Linked DNA regions of Homo sapiens: region 1 is linked to region 2. Evidence: fine-mapped QTL for protein levels in blood plasma. Region 2 holds a variant in brackets. A gene starts in the other region. All regions are shown on their forward strands.

Region 1 (10,877 bases), not on the chromosome of region 2:
GTGAGAATGAGGAAATAAGAAAGATGGGTGAAAAGAGGTGAAATTGGAAAGAGAAAACTTTGAGGACATTCAAAAGGGGGAAAGAAAGAATGGAGTGATGAGAAGAGGGGACACTATGGAGAGTGGAGGCAAAGTTAAGTGGAGAAACTGGAAGAACTGTGATCTATTAAAACAAGCAGGAACTGAAAAAATGACATGGTTTCTCCTTTTTATCTTACAAATGACATGCAAAATCCAGAGGGACAAAATGACCTTTCTTTCAATGCCATACACCACTTTGTCTAAGGCAGTTGAGGAAGGGAAGTAGATATAATGGAGCTTAGTGGCAGAGCAGCTGGAATCCTGAGAGAAGAGAATAACTTTAGTTCAGAGCAGGTGGGGAAATGAGAGATTGAGTAGGAGGACCAAGGTTGAGGGAAGCAGATCTTCTTAGTTGCTGTCAGCGGCTGATGGGGAAGATTGTTGGTAGAAGGAAGTCAGAATATAGGTACAGAGGGATAAGTTTGCTAAGAACAGAGATCAGCAAACAGCTTTTCTGAGAGAAAGAAACATCTGCAAATGACATGCTGTTTCTGCAGTTTCTGCTGCTAGCTCTTCTTCTCCCAGGTGGTGACAATGCAGACGGTAAGAACATCGCTGTCAGCTGCAAGGTTACATGTATCTGGGTAGAGTGTGCTGGGCTTTCCCGAGATGGATCAATAGAGATGCCAGAATGCTTGCCATCTGAGCATACCTGTCTCCAGGTCCAGTTTACTCTTTTGGAGGATGGTGGCAGAGCATGGGCTCTGTGTAAGGAAAATGTTATAGCTAAAGTAGTCATTAATGTTTCTCTGTGGTAACTGGTTCAATTTCCATTTCCTCTCCATTTTCCGTTAAAACAATCAGGGCCCAGGAAAATGATGTGGTTTCTCCTTTTTATGTTACAAATGACACGCAAGGTCCAGAGGGATGAAGCAACCTTTCAATGCCACGCACCACTTTGTCTAAGGCAGTTGAGGAAGGGAAGTAGATAAGATGGAGCTTAGTGGGAGAGCAGCTAAAATCCTAAGGGAAGAGAGTAACTTTAGTTCAGAGCAGATGGGGAAATGAGAGATTGAGTAGGAGGCCTAAGGTTAAGGGAAGCAGATTGTCTTAGTTGCTGTCAGTGGCTGATGGGGAAGATTGTCTGTTGGTAGAAGGAAGTCAGAATATAGATGTAGAGGGATAAGTTTGCTAAGAACAGAGATCAGCAAATGGCTTTTCTGAGAGAAGGAAACAACTGCAAATGACATGCTGTTTCTGTAGTTTCCGCTGCTAGTTCTTCTCCTCCCCGGTGGTGACAATGCAGATAGTATGAACATCTCTGTCAGCTGCAAGGTTACATGTATCTGGGTTGAGCATGATGGGCTTTCCCAAGATGGATCAATGAAGAAGCCAGAATGGTTGCCATTTGAGCATACCTCTCTCCAGGTCCAGTTTACTCTTTTAGAGGATGGTGGCAGAGCATGGGGCTCTGTGTAAGGAAAATGGTATAGCTAAAGTAGTCATTAATGTTTCTCTGTGGTAACTGGTTCACCTTCCATTTTCTCTCCATTTTCCTTGCCTCTCTTTTTTTTTTTTTCCTTACACTACTTGCCCTTCTTCCACCAAAAGCATCCCAGGAACACGTCTCCTTCCATGTCATCCAGATCTTCTCATTTGTCAACCAATCCTGGGCACGAGGTCAGGGCTCAGGATGGCTGGACGAGTTGCAGACTCATGGCTGGGACAGTGAATCAGGCACAATAATTTTCCTGCATAACTGGTCCAAGGGCAACTTCAGCAATGAAGAGTTGTCAGACCTAGAGTTGTTATTTCGTTTCTACCTCTTTGGATTAACTCGGGAGATTCAAGACCATGCAAGTCAAGATTACTCGAAATGTAAGTTCAATCATCTAAATTATGGGAGTTCTTTAGAATGTTCTATTTCAGGGAAATATTCTCTACTAATTTTTGGGCCATTTCCCATTATCCCATCCCACCATAAAATTCTGCATAGATGAACCTTTTAAGGGATATTCCTGATGTTGACTCCCTCAAATTTCCTAGGCTCTTGCTATTTTTGGAATTTTTTTTCTTGTGCTTTGTTATCTTCCACCTGTGGTCTCCCTCTGTATCCTACAATCCAGAGATACACAGCTGTCCCACTCTGTGCTTGACTCCCTTAAAATAAAATCTATTCCCCCATTCAATTTCTTCAAAGATCTATGTCCACAGTTCAATGACCATTATGACCAATTTCATGCGTCATGGAATGCTATCCTCCTACCTCCCTCACAAAGGCTCCCCCTTCACCCTCTATCCTATATTATGTGGCTCACCTATCATTTTTCCACATCTTCCTTGGCCACTTTTTCTTGTTAATTCAAGGCATTTATCTCTTATTGTCCCCTTCCCTATCCCCAGCAATTTTTCTCTCTTGTTTCTGATCAAATATGTCTTTGGCTCACTCTCACATCCATGTAAAACTTTCTTGCTTCACTTCCTGATACAGCCCTAGGTTTTTATACTGTTGTTTTCACTTTTTTGTTTGAACTCTTTTTCTCATTCCTCCCTTCCTCCAGATCCCTTTGAAGTACAGGTGAAAGCGGGCTGTGAGCTGCATTCTGGAAAGAGCCCAGAAGGCTTCTTTCAGGTAGCTTTCAACGGATTAGATTTACTGAGTTTCCAGAATACAACATGGGTGCCATCTCCAGGCTGTGGAAGTTTGGCCCAAAGTGTCTGTCATCTACTCAATCATCAGTATGAAGGCGTCACAGAAACAGTGTATAATCTCATAAGAAGCACTTGCCCCCGATTTCTCTTGGGTCTCCTGGATGCAGGGAAGATGTATGTACACAGGCAAGGTCAGTAGTTTCAGCCCCTTCCTCTAAGATTTTTCTATTCAAGTACTGCCCCTTCTGTTCCCACCCTTCAAACTCAGGACAAGAAAGAGGACAAGAAGCAGGGGGGTTGCTGGGTAATAGTTTCTTAGAGGCAGGAAAAAGATAACTGTGCATATTCATGTGGATGTGTGTATGTGGATGTAAGTTGTGTGTAAGTTTCTTCATCAGAACACTTTTTCTGCTCTCTGCAGTGAGGCCAGAAGCCTGGCTGTCCAGTCGCCCCAGCCTTGGGTCTGGCCAGCTGTTGCTGGTTTGTCATGCCTCCGGCTTCTACCCAAAGCCTGTTTGGGTGACATGGATGCGGAATGAACAGGAGCAACTGGGCACTAAACATGGTGATATTCTTCCTAATGCTGATGGGACATGGTATCTTCAGGTGATCCTGGAGGTGGCATCTGAGGAGCCTGCTGGCCTGTCTTGTCGAGTGAGACACAGCAGTCTAGGAGGCCAGGACATCATCCTCTACTGGGGTAAGACTGGAGGTTGGAAGTGTAGGTAGGTGGTTCTTGAGCCTAGAGGTTAGGGGAGAGGAAATTTTGAGGATAGCAGACCTAGGTGAGGGATTGTAGGAAGAAATGTATAGGGTAATTTAAAGAATAGTGGAGTAAGACCTAAGGGATACATGGATACTAGAGATTTAAGGGGAAATGAGGAATCCTTCCTTGAGTAAGTTTTGGAATAGAGTGACTGAAATAGGATAACTGATGCAACTCATCCAATGCATATGTTAAGTAAGGAAATCAATAGATGGAATAGAATCAGCAGTGAGTTTAAAATGGCATCCATGTATCTTTCCAATATGTGCAGGACACCACTTTTCCATGAATTGGATTGCCTTGGTAGTGATAGTGCCCTTGGTGATTCTAATAGTCCTTGTGTTATGGTTTAAGAAGCACTGGTGAGTTTTTTGTATTTCCTCCTCTCCTCCCAGTTTCTTATTTCACATTCCATTTTTCACTCTCTTAGCTTTTCTCTATTGACTACTCCACCTTATCCTCAGTTACCACCTCCAACTTATTCAGGGTTTCTCCCATTCCTGTTCCTTCACAGCTCATATCAGGACATCCTGTGAGACTCTTCCCCCTGACTCCCCCATTGTGTTAAGAACCCAGCAACCCAGGAGCCTAGTACAATATAGTGATGCCATCCCGTCGACTCTCCATTTAAATTGTTTCTCTTTCTGCATAATAAACATTTGTTAATAAAAACCAAATTCTAATTTGGAATGTTTTTCTTGGAATCTCCACTTTTTATATAGCACTCAACCTTCAAAGCCCATTTCTGATGTCATTTCCTCCAACGATCTTCCTTGACCCATACTGAACCCAGAGAGCCCCTCAACTGTTATGTGCATGCAACACTTCCTACCCTGTGTTGCAGCTACTTGAGTCTTTCATTTCACATTTTTAAGCTTTTAGGAGGCAAGGATCATGATAAATGTGCCTTTCCTGCATATGATAGGCTCAGTGAAACACAAAACAAAACATCATATCTAAGTTGGATTAACTGTCATGTTGACAATTTTTCTCATTATATTCCTTCCCAATGTTGTTGTAGCATTGGAAATATTCATGCTTCTCTTTTTGTTTAAATGCTTCATACCTAGCAGATAAATTCCACTCTCCTTTAGCTCCCTCATTTTCTCCTTAAACATTTAAGGAAAAGTGCAGCCTTGTGCCTTGATACACTTATTTTCTAAACACAGAGAATTACAAATGCAAATAGACAGAGAGTGTGCAAGTTACATGTGATGATCAGTGGTGCAGATATGTCACAGAATACTTAAGAAAAGGAACAAGAGATTTGGTCCTCAGGGTTGGAGTGGGATCAAGGCAACCGTTGTGCTGTATATGGAAGACAAATTTCCTAAAGGACTGTGTTATCTGAGATAGCCTTGGCTAAACTTTAGTCCCTTTAGGTTTCATTCACTAATTCAACTAATATTTTTTGGGTACTGAGTTGAGACAGGCACATACAGCTTCTAAACTGGTGGTGGATAAAACAAATGAGATTGTGTCCACTCTCCTGAAGTTGCAATGTTTGCTTCCTCAATCTGTCCATGTTTCTTTTCTATTGTTTTCATGTTTTTATTTATTTCAAAAAATTTTAAATAGATTTTATTGATGTATAATTTATAGTAAAATTTGAATCTTTAAGTGTACAGTTCTATTTATTTTGATAATTATATAAGCCCATGTAAACAAAATCACAATCAAGATATTAAATGTCATAACCCCTCATACCTGTTTGTAGTCAAGCACACCAACAACCTGGCATTCTTGCAACTACTGATATACTTTATGTCACTTAAGCTTAAACTTGTATTTTCTATGATTTTATTAAGATGGAAATAAACATATCTACTTGGTATTGCCTTTTATTTTTCTTCAGTTTAGCATATGGTTGTAAGTAATCCATGCTGCTCAGTGTATTAGTAACCATTCCTTTTCATTGCTGAATAGAATTCCATGTATGAATATAACTTTTTTTGGAGGAGGAGGTGGCTTCCCAGATCTGGCAGGGCCTTTGTCTCCTTGTGCCCACTCACCCAGCTTGGGTCCTGCTTCCATTGCTCATTTCCTTGGCACCAGGAGGCCCTAGGTGACTCTCCTGCACCCTTAGTCACCCTGTGACCTGCAGATACAGAGAGATCAATAGAGAGGATTCTAGGACACCCAGGAAACTGGGAAATAAAGCCAAAAATATATAAAATTAAACTTATTTTTGGGAGAAGAGACAAGATGGCTGACTAGATGCAGCCAGGAAGAGCTTCTCCCACCAAGAGACAAGACCATCAAGAAGAGCAGTATACTCTGAGAAGATCATTGGAAAGAAGGCATTGAGAGTGGATGGAGGGAGAATGCAGACCCTGGGCTGAAGGGGGGAAGAAGCTGCGAACCCTACACAGGGTTGCCAAACACTAGGACTTATTCTTGGTCCTCAGTGGCTTCTAGGGAAGGGGTTGGTTAAATAGGCATGAAGTGGCCCACTCTATCCATGAACCTCTGGAATCCTAGCTGCAGGAGACCCCCACGACCCACACAGACATTTGAGTTGGCAGGGAAAGCTACTTGCAGAGTTGGCAGGGACAGGACTCCAGCTTCTATGGAACCCAGAGGGTTTGGTGTGAGAACAGCTACAGTGGAGCATGGTTAGGGATGTCCATTACCCGAGGATTGGCATGCTCCTCTAGGTGGCTTTGACCCCTTTGTTGACTATCAGACCTGGACAGAATAGGGCTACCATGATATTTGGATGGGGCTAGACTGATCTGAGCCCCCCACCCCATGTCTGCTGGCCTCTCCCAGGATCCCTGCCTGTCTGTACCTGCTTGCAGCACAGCCTCAGATGTTCAACTGAGGCAGTTCTCAGAGACCACTGCCATAGGTCTTTCACTGGCTGACCCCACCAAACCACCAAATAGCTTCTGTCACTGGCCTCACATCAGCATGCACCTGCCTTCAGCACCCACAACTGCTTTGCTGGCATACATACACAGACATCACTGCCTTGCTACCACTTCTGTGCACATATGCATGGAGACCTCACCACTGCTGCACTGTCCCCACTAGCCTACATGCGTGCATGTACCCTGCCACACTACCATCCCTGGTGTACATGTGCATGGACCTTCTACCCTGCTGCCCCACCACCACCAGCATGTGAGTGAGTGTGGACCCCACCATGCCACTGCCCCACTGCTGCCAGTACATGCATGTGAGAGCAGACCCCCACCGCCACTGCCCTTATGAAATGCTTTTCTGGGACCCCCCCACCCTGCCCACCATAGGAGTGTTGTTGCTAGTGGACTGGGAGCACCTTGGCCCCCTCCAGTGAAGCAGGTGCTCAGTCTCAAGGGGCCAAAGAACAAGGTTCTGGGCCTGGTCCCAGGCCCTCAGTCTTAGAGCATATAGCCCAGGAGTGCTGAGCTGAGCCATGGCCCCCTGAAATCATCAAGAAATAAAGCTAGCTCACTGACCCAAACCTATACCATAGTCAAAGCCTCAAGGGCATCAAAGAATATAAAAGCAAAAGGCCCCATCAAAAGGACAGCAACTTTAAACGTTTAAGGAACATCAGCCCACATAGATGAGAAAGAACCCGTGGAAGAACTCAGGCAGCTCTAAAAGTCAGAGTGTCTTCTTACTTCCAAATGAACACACTAGCTCCCCAACAATCTTTCCTAACCAGACTAAAATGGCTGAGATAATAGACATAGATTTTAGAATCTGGATGGCAATGAAAATCATGAGATTCAGGAGAAAGTTGAAATGGAATCCAAAGAATTTAAGGAATCCAGTAAAATAATACAATAACTGAAAGACAAAATAGCCATTTTAAGAAAGAACTAAGCTGATTTGACAGAGCTAAAAAATTCACTAAAGAATTTTATAATACAATTGGAAGTATTAAAGGCAGAATAGACCACACTGAGGGAAGAATCTCAGAGCTCAAAGACCAGTTCTTCTAATTAACTCAGTCACACAAAATAAAGAAAAAATAATACAGAAGGATGAACAAAATCTCTGAGAAATATGAGGTTATGTAAAGAGACCAAACCTGTACTCACTGATGTCCCTGAAAGAGAGAGAGAGAGAGTGTGCAAACAATTGAAAACATATATGAGGATATTGTCCATGACAATTTTCTCAACTTCACTATAGAGGTCAACATTCAAATTCAAGAAATTCAGAGAACTCCTGAGAGATACTACACTAGAAAACCATCCTCAAGATACACAATAATAAGATTATCCAAGGTCAATGTGAAAGAAAAAAATACTAAAGGCAACCAGAGAGGAGGAGCAGGTCACCTACAAAGGGACCCCAATCAAGCTAACAGCATACCTTTCAGCAGAAACCTTAGAAGCCAGAAGACATTGAGGGCCTATATTCAGCATTGTTAAAGAAAAGAAATTCTGACCCAAAATTTCATATCCAGCCCAAGTAAGATTTATATGTTAAAGAGAAATTCAGCAAAGCAAATGCTAAGGAAATTTATTACCACCAGACCTGCCTTATAAGAAGTCATTAAGGGAGTGCTAAACATGGAAATAAAAGACTCTTACCAGCCACCACATAAATGCACTTAAGTAAACAGACCAGTGACACTATAAAGGAACTACACAATTAAGTCTACATAACAACCAGCTAACAATAATGACAAAATCAACTTCTCACTTATCAATATTTACCTTGAAGGTAAATGAGCTAAACACCCCAAGACACAGAGTGGCAAGTTGAATAAAGAAACAAGACCCTGGCTCATGCCTGTAATCCTAACACTTTGAGGCTAAGGCAGGCCGATTGCTTGATCCTATGAGTTTGAGACCAACCTAGGCAACATGGAAAAACCCCATTTCTACAAAAAAACCAAGAAAATTAGCTAAGAATGGTGGCACATGCCTGTAGTCCCAGCTACTGAGGAGGCTGAGGTAGGAGGATCACCCAAGCCTGGGGAGGTGGAGGCTGCAGTAAGTTGTGATCATGCCACTGCACTTCGGCCTAAGTAACAGAGTGAGACCCTGTCTCACGTTAAAAAAGACAAAAAAAAAAAAAATAAACAAGACCCACCTGTAAGTTATCTTCAAGAGACCCATCTCACATGCAAGGACACCCATAGGCCAAAACTAAAGGATGGCAAAAAATCTGTCAAGCATACAGGAAAGAAAAAAGAGCAGGGGTTGCTATTTTTATTTCAGACAAAATAAACTTTAAACCAACAACTGTCAAAAAGGACATAGAAAAACATTATTTAATGATAGAGGGTTGAATTTAATAAGAAGACTTAGCTATCCTCAATATATATGCACCCAACACAGGAGCACACAGGTTCATAAAACAAGTACTTAGAGACCCACAAAGAAGCTTATGTTATCATACAATAATGGTGGTAGACTTCAACACCCAACTGACAGCATTAGATAGATCATCAAGAGAGAACACTGATAAAGGTATTTGGAACTTAAACTCGACACTTGACCAAATGGACCTAATAAACATTGACAGAACGCTCCACCCAAAACCAAAAGAATATACATTCTTCCCATGCCTCCAGCTTTGTTCCTTTTGCTTAGGATTGTCTTGGCAATGTGGGCTCTTTTTGATTTCATATGAAAGATCAGGTAGTTTTTCCAATTCTGTGAAGAAAGTCATTGGTAGCTTGATAGGGATGGCATTGAATTTATAAATTACTTTGGGCAGTATGGCCATTTTCACGATATTGATTCTTCCTATCGATGAGCATGGAATGTTCTTCCATTTGTTTGTGTCCTCTTTTATTTCATTGAGCAGTGGTTTGTAGTTCTCCTTGAAGAGGTCCTTCACATCCCTTGTAAGTTGGATTCCTAGGTATTTTATTCTCTTTGAAGCGATTGTGAATGGGAGTTCACTCATGATTTGGCTCTCTGTTTGTCTGTTATTGGTGTGTAGGAAAGCTTGCGATTTTTGCACGTTGATTTTGTATCCTGAGACTTTGCTGAAGTTGCTTATCAGTTTAAAGAGATTTTGGGCTGAGGTGATGGGGTTTTCTAAATATACAATCATGTCATCTGCAAACAGGGACAATTTGACTTCCTCTGTTCCTAATTAAATACCCTTTATTTCTTTCTCTTGCCTGATTGCCCTGGCCAGACTTCCAATACTATGTTGAATAGGAGTGGTGAGAGAGGGCATCCTTGTCTTGTGCCAGTTTTCAAAGGGAATGCTTCCAGTTTTGCCCATTCAGTATGATATTGGCTGTGGGTTTGTCATAAATAGGTCTTAGTATTTTGAGATATGTTCCATCAATATCTAGTGTATTGGGAGTTTTTTAGCATGAACAGCTGTTGAATTTTGTCAAAGGCCTTTTCTGCATCTATTGAGATAATGATGTGGTTTTTTTCTTTAGTTCTGTTTATGTGATGGATTACATTTATTGATTTGCATATGTTGAACCAGCCTTGCATCCCAGGGATGAAGCTGATTTGATCATGGTGGATAAGCTTTTTGATGTGCTGCTGGATTTTGTTTGCCAGTATTTTACTGAGGATTTTGCATCAGTGTTCATCGGGGACATTGGTCTAAAACTCTCAGCATCAGGATTATGCTGGCCTCAAAAAATGAGTAAGGGAGGATTCCCTCTTTTTCTATTGATTGGAATAGTTTCAGAAGGAATGGTACCAGCTCCTCTTTGTACCTTTAGTAGAATTTGTCTGTGAATCCATCTGGTCCTGGACTTTTTTTGGTTGGCAGGCTATTAATTATTGCCTCAATTTCAGAGCCTGTTATTGGTCTATTCAGAGATTCAACTTCTTCCTGGTTTACTCTTGGGAGGGTGTGTGTGTCGAGGAATTTATCCATTTCTTCTAGATTTTCTAGTTTATTTGCACAGAGATGTTTATATTATCCTCTGATGGTAGTTTGTATTTTTGTGGGATCAGTGGTGATATCCCCTTTATCATTTTTTATTGTGTCTATATGATTCTTCTCTCTTTTCTTCTTTATTAGTCTTGCTAGTGGTCTATCAATTTTGCTGATCTTTTCAAAAAGCCAGGTCCTGGATTCATTGATCTTTTGAAGATTTTTTTTGTGTCTTTATCTCATTCAGGTCTGCTCTGATCTTAGTTATTTCTTGTCTTCGGCTAGCTTTTGAATATGTTTGCTCTTGCTTCTCTAGTTCTTTTAATGTGATGTTAGGTGTCAATTTTAGATCTTTCCTGCTTTATCTTGTGGGCATTTAGTGCTATAAATTTCCCTCTACACACTGCTTTACATGTGTCCCAGAGATTCTGGTACATTGTGTCTTTGTTCTCATTGGTTTCCTAGAGCATCTTTATTTCTGCCTTCATTTTGTTATTTACCAAGTAGTCATTCAGGACTACAGTTTCCATGTAGTTGTGTGGTTTTGAGTGAGTTTCTTAATCCTGAGTTCTAATTTGATTGCACTGTGGTCCGAGAGACAGTTTGTTGTGATTTCTTTTCTTTTTACATTTGC
Region 2 (11,495 bases):
CCTGGGTAGACGGGACTATAGGCTCAAACCACCACACCTAAGAGATTGGTAAACTTTCTAAAGGGGACAAGAAGAGCCGTCATCTAGGGTTGGAGTACTTAGATCTGAGAGACTGTGACTAAAGGCAATAGCAATGAGAGAAATGGAGCTCTTTCCTGATGGTGCCAAAGTTGGCTCATTTCATTTGCTACTTTATTTGCTATGTATTTCCCTCCTTATGGAGAACTGTTGGTGCAGCTGCAGTGCCCTACAAACAGGTGCCTTGTTCTAGAGAAAGGCCCCTCCACCATGTGAGGATGCAGTGAGAAGGTGCTGTCTATGAGAAAATGGGCCCTCACCAGACACTGGATCAGCCAGCGCCTTGATCTTGGACTTCTCAGACTCCAGAACGATGAGAAATTTCTGTTGTTTATGAGTTAAAACAATAAGAATGGAAAAGACTCTAGAAGCTGTAGAATAAACCCCTTTATTTTACCAGTGAGGAAATTAGGATTCTCAGAGTAGAGTTACTTTTCTTAACTCTGCTCATTCAGTGTCTTAGGAATTTGATTTCCAGAGCAGACCTATCCCCTAGGAAGAAAGGGCCAAGCCAGCTACCCTGCCATACAGGGCACCTTGGCATTCACTTTTGTGCCTCCCATCCCGACCTGATTCCCAGGGCCCCTGCGCCTTTGGTGCACTGACAGAATCAAAGTGTGAGCCTGACTGCACCGTGAACTCGTGGGCTTCCCTAGGAAGCAGTGTCCTCGTTTCTCCTCACTGAAGCAGGAATGGGTCACACGCCTTCATCCATCTCTAAGCTCTCCATCCACTTGGCTCTGTTATGTCTGATCTTCCAGCCTCTCTGTTTCATTTCCCTTGACTGTCTGGTGTGTTCCTACAGGATGCTGAAGTGGGAGAGACAAGCACAGGTGATGTCCAGGCCAGCCTAGGGGGACCCTCTGGAGGATGTCTCCCCCAACCCCAGGTCTCATGTTACAGAGACATTGCTTCTGTGGGTCAAGGAGGGCCTGGTGGATGTTCATATCACACACACGTACACACGCGGTCACCCTCGGAAATGTCCCTCCGGCCAGTGCTGGACTCACAGCCCTCCCCTTCCACAGTAGCACCTCCATATAGTCATTTTGTCTGCAGGTTCCTCAAGGACAAGTCACCTCACCAGGATGACTTGTCTGAGAATTAGAAAATCAGAGGTCACTGAACCCTTAGGAGAGGATGTCCTCAGTTACCGGATTTCACTGTTCACTGCTAAAGATTGAATCAATTTGTGGGTAAATTATGACAGCTGTGAGTGAAGACAATGTATGGAAGTTGTTACCTCTGGTGCCTTCTATTTCTGGATCTGTATTGACCCAGTCTGTGGCTCCATCCTGCAGGTATGGGCTTGTTACTTTGCACTTGTACATGATTTAGTCCCTGGGCTAAGTCCCAAGTGTGAGGCCAGGGCAGGTTGTGGTACAGGCCCCACAGGCAGCTCTCATGAATGCAGCCCAGTTCCTGGCACACAGCAAGGGCTCAGTAACTCCAGCTCAGGGGCTTAAGCTTCTTAATGTGAGTGAAAACAGAACGGAAAACGCACCTGAAGCACAACAGGCCCTGTCTTTCACCCACAGTGGGGTAAGGACTTGCTCCTTGAGGACTCAGAGGCATTAACGATAATGAAGGGTTCCAACCCAGCTGAGTTCTCTGGTTTTTGGTTCCTCTGTTTAGAAATGCCATGTTTGTGGCTTCAAATAAATCAAGAGATTTGAACCCAAAAGATGGGCAATTTGGCAGGGTTTCAAACCCACTTAAAACTACAGCTCCAAATTTAGATGTGATCTGGGAACTTGAGTTTCAAGTTCCCCTTGACTTGGGCAAAGCCTGAATTTCAATCTACTGCACATTTTAATTTATCCGTTCTCATCTTTTTAACTTCCCCAAATTTCGCTCTCCCTTTTTGGAACTCATCACTCTGGTTGTGTTTCTCACGTGGCTGTTGCTGTGACTTCTCTTGCGTTGTTTTCTGTTATCATCACACAGACCTTATACTCTGCCTTTCAGTCTTATCTCCTGGGCTGGGCTGGAGACACCTTCTGGGCAGGGGCTGTCCTCAGGCCTCTTTCCTTTCCCCTCCGTGAGACTTGCCCAGGGTCCAATACTCATGGGTCACAGTTAAGGACTGAGGGTTGCTCCGTTGTAAAGCTAGGAACTGGAGGAGGTTATGTTCCAACCAGATTTCCAGAGCCTTGGCTTCTGATTTGGTTAAGTATTCCTTGGAAATAAACAAATAAGCAATGCAAACATCTGAAGAGCAGTGGTTTGAGTTAAGGAGTGTACAAAATTTAAGAAAAGTCTGATGAAGACAAAGCCATGTGCTGGGCAAAATCGAATCAATCCATAATAGCTTTCTGTCACTCCTGCCATGCCAATACTGCCTGAATTGTTTGTCTACAGCTTGTGGGAGGCTAAAAGAGTCAAAGGTTAGAATTTGGCACATGAGATAGAACTAGAGTTCAGATCACATGCACCTTTTCACACCTTCACACTTTTGGAGAAACAGTGTATTTGTTTGGTTGGGCTGCCATAGCAAGGTACCACAAACTGGGTCGCTTCAACAACAGAAGTTTATTCTCTCACAGTTCTGGAGGCCAGATGGCCAAGATCAAGTTGTGGGCAGGGTTGGCTCCTTCTGAGGGCTGTGAGGGAAGCCTGTTCCTCGCTTCTGGTGGCTTGCTACGACCTTTGGTGTCCCTTCGCTTGCGGACCTCTGCCTTCGTCTTCACATGGTCATCTCCCTGTGTGTGTCTGTGTGTCTGTCTGTGTCTAAATTTCCTCTTTTATAAGGACATTGATCATATTGGATTACGGGATCATCATACTCTGTAGTATGGCCTCATCTTAACTGATCACATGTGCGATGACCCTATTTCCAAGTAAGATCATATTCTGGTGGTACTAGGGGTTAGGATTTCAACATTAATTTAGTGGTGGTGGGTGAGCATATTTAACACAGTGCAACAGCCTTCTTATTTGAATTTATTGTTCTCCAAATCAGGGTTTATCCATAGAATTCAGTCTGTGCCATACCTATGGATTGGATAATAAACATCTAGAAGAAGCTAAAGGCAGGAGTCCCTTTTCTCCTTTTCTACCCAGTGATCCATCCATCCATCCATCCGTTATCACACACGTGCACACACACACACACACTTTATATAGGTGAGACTCTAGGGGTTCCTTACTGGAAGCCCCTGTCATCCAGGGACACTACTTGATGTCTTACTTGCATGGATTTGATGAGCTGCCTCAGAGGAAGAGCTATAAGGACTCTGAAGTAAGGCCTGGGTTCAGAATCCAGCCCTGCACTTACTGGCTCTGTGACATCAGTGACACCTTCCTCTTTGAGGCTTGGTTCTTCATTTGCAATATAGCAAATACTAGAGCAGACCCTATAGGTCCCTGAAAAATGGTGGCATTTATTGACGTTATTATTGTTGAGTGAGCCAAGGAGAGAGGGACAGAGTGGAGGCATGGCCTATCTTCCAGCTTCCAGAAGCTCACCACCAGGCACTCCTGGGGGCGCAAGTCCAAAGCTGTCACAGAGACTGCCTCATCTGGACTGTCTCCCCAGTTCCAGAGCTGTGGTTCTTAATCTTTTGGGGAACTGGATCCCTCTGGAAATCTAATACAATCTGTGGACTCCTCCCCAAATAGCACCTGTGCATGGAGTGTCCTCAGAAGCTTGCGTGTGATTGTGGCAGGTTTGCGTCTCCACTTGAGACCACCCACGGAGGCTAAAGTTTCCACTTCAGAGACAACAACCTGAGAAATTCATTTGCTCATCCAGTAAACATTTCTTGTGTGACTGTCACATGCCGGGTGCTTTGTGGGGGACCAGGATGTCACGGAAAAGTCAGATAGGAGACCTTTCCCCAAACTGCTCACAGGCAGCAAAAACCATAATGAAAAGTAGAAATGATTCAATATTATAGCAGACATATGGCTATATTTTTTTTGTCCCAGTTCAGAGGAGGACATTATTTCTACCATGGAGGGTGTGAAATAATCAGGCAGGTTCAGTGGAAGGAAGGATATTTGAGTTGGAAAATAACAGGTGAGTTAAATTTTGTTCTTAAAGGACATATTGGTATTCCCAAGGTACCCATCCCGACAGTTGACACAAGTGCACGAATATCTGTCTGCTGGTGTTTGCCTTCACCTGAATGTAACTTAGCTGCTAGATTCCTAAAACGCTGCACCTCTGATAAGAAGCCAGTTCGTGTTCTTTTCTTCAAATATGGGCTTCCAATTGTATCACTTCTATAACACAAAGCACAGTTCATTCATTTACATGAAACAAGAAGACATTGACATTCTGCCTGTCTTCAGTCCTTACCTTTGTTATGAAGGAATCTTTGGTGTCTCTGACCCTCTAGGGATCCCAGTCCTCCACCCAGCTGTGGAGGATGGAATGGGAGGTGCACATCTGGGAGTAGTTAACCACTATCTTCTACTTTCTTTCTTCCAGGGGAGGTGCTTCTTCACCCCACTCCTCTCTATCCACATCACTAATAGCCAAGAGCTCAGCCTTCCCGGGGTCAGACAACGTTGTGATCTGCTGGATCCTGTTCTGCTTCAGCTGTGTTGAATGCATATCCATTTGGTTCTGGTTCATAATTCTTCACTATCAATTTTTCTGAAAGACTTCAGTTCCTTTTGTGGTTCAGTGAAAAGTTTGGTATTTGGGGTTGGGTACAGATTAGGTTTAGCCTAGGGTTGAGATCTGCTGTGGTTTGGGTTTTGCAGGGTGGTCATTTCGTAAATGCTATCTCAACCCTTCCCAGGTGGAAGGGGCAGGGAAATGTGGCCTGGGAATCCACATCATAAAGAATTTTCAATAAATGATCTGAGAGGAACACAGTGTGTTCTCTCCCTGGCAGCAGCATCAAGCAGTCTCTGGAAGACACACTGAGCATCATTCTACGCTGTATGGTTGTAGGTTCACTGTCAAAATGAGCTTGATCCAGCAAGAATTTAGGAAAGTGACAAGTGGTTCAGGCTTAGCCACAGACTTGCAACGTGACCCTGGGTAAATCAGTTCCCCTCTCTGGGACTCAGTTTCCTTATGTGTAAACAAACAAACAAAGGAAATTGGACGAGAAACTAGGTGATGGTGAAGGTGACTTTCAGAGCTTAAATGTTATGATGCTGTGAACACAACAACTTTATTTTAAATTAACTGTGCCTCTAAGGAAAGGATTCAAAGGCTCTTTCATTCATTGAACTGTATCTCTCCCACGTTCCACTCCCTGGTCATTGCTCAAGAACAAACATGAGAGCATCCAGCCCTCCTGGAGAACGTACATACTTCAATGGAGGCCTTGGCTGCCTGCCTGGGGCTCCCTCAGCAACCAGGCTGTGTAGTAGCATGGTGGGCCCATGGGGTCACAGAACCTTCTCTCCCCTTCCTTCCCTCCTTTTTTCCTTAGAGGGAAGGAAGGGGACAAAAGAGGACAGTATTAGACCATATCCACACTTCTAAGGCTTTAGGCTCCAGAAGGGAATGTACCTCTTTAAGGTGCCTGCAGGCAGGGCCTATCCAGCCAGCAGGGTAAGGCAGAGGCCATCCCAGCCCCTCAGGATCCCCGTGGGGTGTGTCTGCTGAGGTTCTAAGGAACTTAATTAACATGGACTTTCCTCACTTATTCACCGCCTACCCCTATAAGGTGTGCTAGCTAAGTAGTTTTTCCACACACCTGAATTTTACCCTTTAAATAATAAAATAGTTTTAATCATTTGAACAATTTTATTTATTTATTTTTGAGACAAAGTCTCACTCTGTCACCCAGGCTGGAGTGCAGTGTCATGATCTCAACTCACTGCAACCTCTGCCTCCTGGGTTCAAGTGATTGTCATGCCTCAGCCTCCCGAGTAGCTGAGATTTACAGGCATGTGCCACCACGTCAAGCTAATTTTTGTATTTTTAGTATAGTCAGGGTTTCACCATGCTGTCCAGGCCGGTCTTGAACTCCTGACCTCAAGTGATTCGCCTGCTTTGGCCTCCCACAGTGCTGGGATTACACGCATGAGCCACCGCACCTGGCCCATTTTCACCATTTTAGATGGGAATAGATACTTTTTGTTTCTTGCTTCTCAGCCCTCTCAGCTGGGTATCATGAACAGAGTCAAATCTTCATCCTAACGAGTATCAATTGTCCTGCCTCAGGTTTTCATGGGTAAACTGAGGAAAAGCATATCTCCCTCACAAGGTCCGTGTGATTATGTAAACAAAGGGCTAGCCTGGAAAGAAGGACATGCTTAGTTAATAGCGATTATTATTTTAATTGTCAGTTGATTACATGGTGATATATTCAGAGAAGATTGATTTATGAAGAGCAATTTGCCTTTCCAGGAAATGGCCCCTGGACTGTTAGGCATTTCGATTTCTTGGGCATGAATTAAATAGTTTCTCTTCCTCTCCCTTGTCACCAGTTGCATGGCTGGCTTGCACCTGACTTAGTGACCCTCCCTTCCTTTCTCCCTCCCTTCCTCCTTTTTCTTCTTTCTCTCTTCCTCTTTCCTTATTTC[T/C]CTTTTTAAAGTTTATTGGGAACTTTTCTCTATAAAATGCTCATTACAGAAAATTTGAAAAAAAGAAAACAAAAAAACAGAAAGAAAACAAAATCACCTATGACACCTTGAGAAAACTACGTTTTGATATATTTCCATTTTATCTCATTTTTCAGTTTTGAGTGTTGTTTGTTTATTGCACATGTTGAAGTTACACCATAGATATAATTTTGCACCCTGCTTCTTTTTAGTTATAATGATAACATAAGCACTTCCCCATGCTAATTTTCAATTCATCACCAACAACATCTATATTGGCTGCAAATATGGCTGGTCATGGTCCCGTGGTTTAACTTACGCATTTCTTTAAGATTGATATGAAAAGATTGGCATGAATTTCTTTCTAGTTTGTTGTTTCTAAGAGGGTGTGGCAGGGAGACCACTCACCAAGTGTGTTAGAACTGTACGTTCTCAGGAAGAGTTAATCAGTCTCAGAATCTTGTGGGAAGGCTGGAGAGGTTTTCCTCAGGAGCCTTTGGATATGAATTTTTTTGACGCCTCTTATACTTTACTCTCTCAAAGGATCCTTTTACTTGTGTTTTCGGTTCTTGATCGAGGTCTGAATAGTTGAGATTATCAATTCATGGACTTCTTGATAAGTGAGATATGACTGCACTAGTAAAAATGATAAAATCTACTTTTCTACCAGCAAGGTAGAATGGTGTCATTGTTCAGAGCTGCCTGCGTTCAAATCCCAGTTCTCCCTCTTTCTAGTTGGGAGCCATCAGGCAAGTTTCAGTCTCTGTGCCTCAGTCCCCTTGCAAAATGGAATCATCATAGTGTCCACCTCACAAGACCGCTGTGCGTATGAAATGAATGAATGTCTGGAAAACACTTAGGACTGTGTCTGGCCCTTGGTAAGCTCTAGTGAGTATTTGCTATTTTTATGTTCTAATTATGTTATGAGGGCATTTTAAAGTTTCTTTGAAACATTTTTGACCTACTCTTTCAGAATTTTTGTCTTTTACAGAGGCTCAGGAGCAGAAGGAGACGGCTAGGGCTGGAAGGGACAGCAAGGGAGTGGCACAGCTGAGAGCAAGGCTGACACCAGGTGCCCAGGCACCGCCTCCACCCCCAAGGCCAGGGAGAGCCGGCAGGGCCCCCCAGGCACAGCCTAGCTGGGCCAGGAGTGGGACAGGAAATGAGAGAGAAAGTCCAGAGTGGGGGTGGTGTGGAGCTGCAAATGAGAACCTGAAGGAGGAGGGGGCTGGCGGGGGGTGGGGTCACCTCTCTCCCCAGATCCCAGCCTCAGGGGTAGGGCCATGGAGTCCGCAAATAGAACCTTCAGTTCCTGAGGGGAAAAAGAAAGTCTAACTTTAGAATTTACAGTTTTCCTTAACAAGAGGTACAGCGCAGTTGCGTTCTGGTAACGGAAGCAAAATTAAAAATATGAGCAGGAAATAAATTAATTTTAAAATATCTAAAAACATGTATTCTGTGGTTCCATCCACCTGGCCAGCATTGACTGGCTTGTTTTTCCCTGGGAGGGACTGATTAATAGGACAGAAATGAGGAGGTGTGAATTTATTTTGGACCTGGGTGGGGAGCCAAGAGAGGTTGGCATCAGCCCACTTAGGCTAAATCTGCATTTTAAAGTCCACAAGGGTGACCACCTACTGGATGCCCTGGAGGGTGGGGAGTTGGGAAGGGAGGTATTGCAGGCTGAGCTCCTTCTCAGCAAGCTTCTAAAAGCAGTTTATTTTCCCCCCTTTTGAAAGTATAGTCATGCAGGCCCAGAGGCAGCCCTATGACCAGGGGACTCTCTGGGCCTTTGTCGGGAGAAGCCAACGACACAGAGCAGGCCTGGGACAGTGAATGCAATGCGGGTTTTTGAGCCCAAAGTGTTCCCTGGGAAGAGGTAAGAGGACAGAGCCCAGCACTCAGAGAAATAAAATCCCTCTGGGCTGTTTTGTGCACCAAGCATGGAGAATCATTTAGCAGGATGAAAGGTGGTTGAGAAGCAATAAATAATCTTCAAATGGGGGAGAGGCCACTGTCTGGGAGGTAGAGAGAAGGCTGCAACGCAGAGCATTTTATCTGAGTTTAAAACGCAAGAGTGAGGCCGATTTCACTGTAGTTCAAGACATGGATAATTAAAAACAAAGACATCTTTAAGACAGATCTAAGGAGGCCTCCCATCCCATGCCCTCACCCTATAAATCCCCCATCTCCGTGCCCTTCCCCCATCTCCTTTTCCCAGAAAAGGCTGGGAACACCCTGAGAAGTAAAATCATCCTAACGAGAGAAGACATGTTCTTGAAGAAATTTTGACTTATGGCTTGCAGCTTTATAAGCATTTCAGTAGAAAGATGTCCCACACTCAGGCACTAAGTCAAGGACGCATAGTTTCAATGCTAGCTTGGTCTTCTGTGTGATTATTTTTACAACATTTGCAATTAAATGCAGATTTTCTGCTGCCAGATTCTGACTGGACAAGGGGCTTCAGTGCTGCTGGGTCCCCCGGCACACAAGCTCAGACACACCAACCTGCACGAGGACACACACTTGGGTGGGAGGAACAGCCCGCCGCTGCACGCACACCAGTGTAAACCACCCAGGACACACACGTGCCTGTGCAAGCTGCCTTTCCCCAAACTTTCTTCATTAGAAACAGATCTGCTCTGCTTCTCTGTTACTTTATTTTGATGATTGAAATTTTCCTCAACCAAAAGTGTAGGCATAATGACCTTTTTCTTAAGACTTCAGAATTGTAGAAGAAAATATGATTATATAAGTTCATATATTTTGGTTTTGAAAGGAACTGATTGCTCTGTGTGTGTGCGTGTGTTTGTGGGTGAGTGAGCGTGCTTGTATGTGTGCATGTGGGTGAGTGTGCATGTGTGTGCTGGTGTGTGCATGTGGGTGTGTGTGCTTGTGTGTGCATGTGTGTGCATGTGGGTGTGTGAGTCTGCTTTGTGTGCATGTGTGTGCATGTGGGTGTGTGAGTGTGCTTGTGTATGCATGTGTGTGCATGAGTGCTCAAGTATGTGCATGTGTATGAGCATGCTAGTATGTGCATGCATGTGCTGTGTGTGTGTCAGTGTGCTTGTGTGTTCATGTGTGTGCATGTGGGTGGGTGTGGGTGTGTGGAGGGTAGGGATTCTGGGAAGGAAATAACAAGGAGGCTCTGATGAGATGAGGAGAAACACAGTGGGTCTGATAGCAGGCACGAGGAAACAGTAGTTGCCACCTTAGAAGAGAAACAATGACAGGAGATGAAGTGTGGTTTGGGGTACTCCAACAATCCCCTGTGAACTCAGGAATTTAGTGGGTTTCCAGAAAGTTCTATATTGCCTTTTCTCCTGGGATGGCCAATGCTGCCCAGCATTGGTCAGGAGCAACTTGCAGGAAGAGAAAAGGTTGATTTTTAGGCCTGCAAATACCCACCTCTGCGTAATTTCGCCTATTGTGAGATTTACGTTGTTATTTGCTTCTTCGGGTTGGTTTAAGAGGCGGTAAGGAAGGCAAAGCTTGCGTGAGGTCAGAGTCCACTCCACCTCACCTCAGCAGGCAAGCAGGGCAGGTAGAGGAACAAAGCAGGCCTTGAGGGAGAGAAAGGCCTGAACTAGAATCCTGCTGACCTCTCTCAGCCTGAGTTTTCTCATCTTTAAATCGGGGCCAATGACCTCCTTGATGTGCAGTCCTTGTGAGGCTGCAAGGAGGCAGTGTGAGCACAGAGGCTGGTACGGGCGGGTGCTCAGGGGAGGAGAGGGCCCGTGCTCTGGCCTCCCACCAAGGCCTCCTGTGTGCTGTTGGAAATGGACTTGGCACAAGCAAGGCTTTGTTTCCTTTTAGAAAGCCACCCCAGTGCCCCACTCCCAGGCTGCCTCTCCGATCCTCCCCTCAGCACGTGGAGCTGGGGCTTGTCACTCAGCCCAGGAGGGACCTAGAGCAGGTCTTCAGTACTGGAAAGAGGAAGAACTCCCCTTGCGGGGAGGCTCCACCCAAGCAGGGCATGAAGCAGGAGGTGGTGGGCCGGGCACAGGAGACAAACCCCGCCTGCTTCCCAGTTTTGCTCCGAGAGTTAGCCTTGGCTAAGTGGAGCTCACCAGCCTCCCACACAGTGAACCCAGAAGTCTTCAGCCCTCAACATCCCCGTGTGTGTGTGTGCACGTGTGTGCGTGCGCATGCGTGCGTGTCCATATGCATGTGTGCACGTGTGTGCCCGTGTGTGCGCATGTGCATGTGTGTATGTGTGCATGTGTGTGCCCGTGTGTGTGGCGTGTGTGTGTGTGTGTGTGTGGTGTACTTCCTGCTTCCTCTAGAGCTCTTTCCTTGTTTCACTCTGACACTGTCTTTGACCGCCCTGAGCCGCTCCCCCTCCCCCTCCCCAGTGGTTCTGATGCTGCCCCTTAGCAGGTAGCTTTTTCAGATTCCTTCACTCTTTTCCTGGGTCTGCCTCTTTGCCTCTTGCCTGATTTCCCCTGGAGCCCCGGGGGATCTACGCTCCTGCAGGGCTGTGCCAGCCCTGTGAGAAGGAAGCCAGAAGTAAGAATCACCACCTAGTGCTAAGGGCAAAACATTGCGCCCAGTAGGTGCTCAGGCCAGGTCTGTGAGGGCGGATTTCAAGGATGAAAGCGGAACCGTGGACATTGAAATGTACATTGTGATGTATTTTCAACTCTTCTTTCTTCAAAGAAAAATAATTGGATGTAAAACGCTCCTCTCGCCCCTCACCCAGACTTCTCCTTTGACGCTGATTTTCCCAGCTCAGAATCAAGTATAGCATCGCTGAAGATCACCAAACTGCTACTTAGACATTTTAAAGATGCAATTTGAGTTCCAGGCAGGGAAAAGGGGTGGATAAAAGAGATTATATGATAATGACATGGCTGTGGGAAGCCTGTCAAATAAAGTGCATTTTCTCTGGTGGGCAGGCTATT

Alleles and levels. Positions count from the first base shown, and alleles are read on the strand shown. Strength reflects both the effect of a copy and how common the allele is.
For the plasma level of the protein whose gene starts at base 422 in region 1, allele T in region 2 goes with a lower level than allele C (weak association).

What was found. A credible set is the group of variants that fine-mapping cannot tell apart. PIP is the chance, under the fine-mapping model, that this variant and not a neighbour inherited with it causes the effect. Protein levels are from antibody-based Olink assays in UK Biobank. Linkage for the fine-mapping came from a reference panel and not from the study's own genotypes, which makes the PIPs less certain.
Region 1: CD1C starts here. The variant in region 2 is the best candidate, but not a certain one, in a credible set for the plasma level of the CD1C protein (UK Biobank, PIP 0.70).

What each region holds. Positions count from the first base shown.
Region 1 is chr1:158,289,502-158,300,378 of GRCh38, forward strand. It overlaps CD1C (CD1c molecule), which reads left to right and starts at 422. Exons shown (of 6, transcript NM_001765.3): 1 at 422-624; 2 at 1,633-1,899; 3 at 2,583-2,864; 4 at 3,095-3,373; 5 at 3,711-3,801; 6 at 3,954-5,273. The coding sequence starts at 564. The coding sequence ends at 3,975. It also overlaps a transcript of CD1B not described here.
Region 2 is chr6:44,616,696-44,628,190 of GRCh38, forward strand. No RefSeq gene overlaps it. Among named protein-coding and RNA genes, the nearest start is that of MIR4642, 190 kb to the left of the region's middle. RefSeq lists enhancers at 4,112-4,696, 7,687-8,194, 8,195-8,703, 10,229-10,736, 10,737-11,244. The variant T/C (reference allele first, on the strand shown) is at 6,574.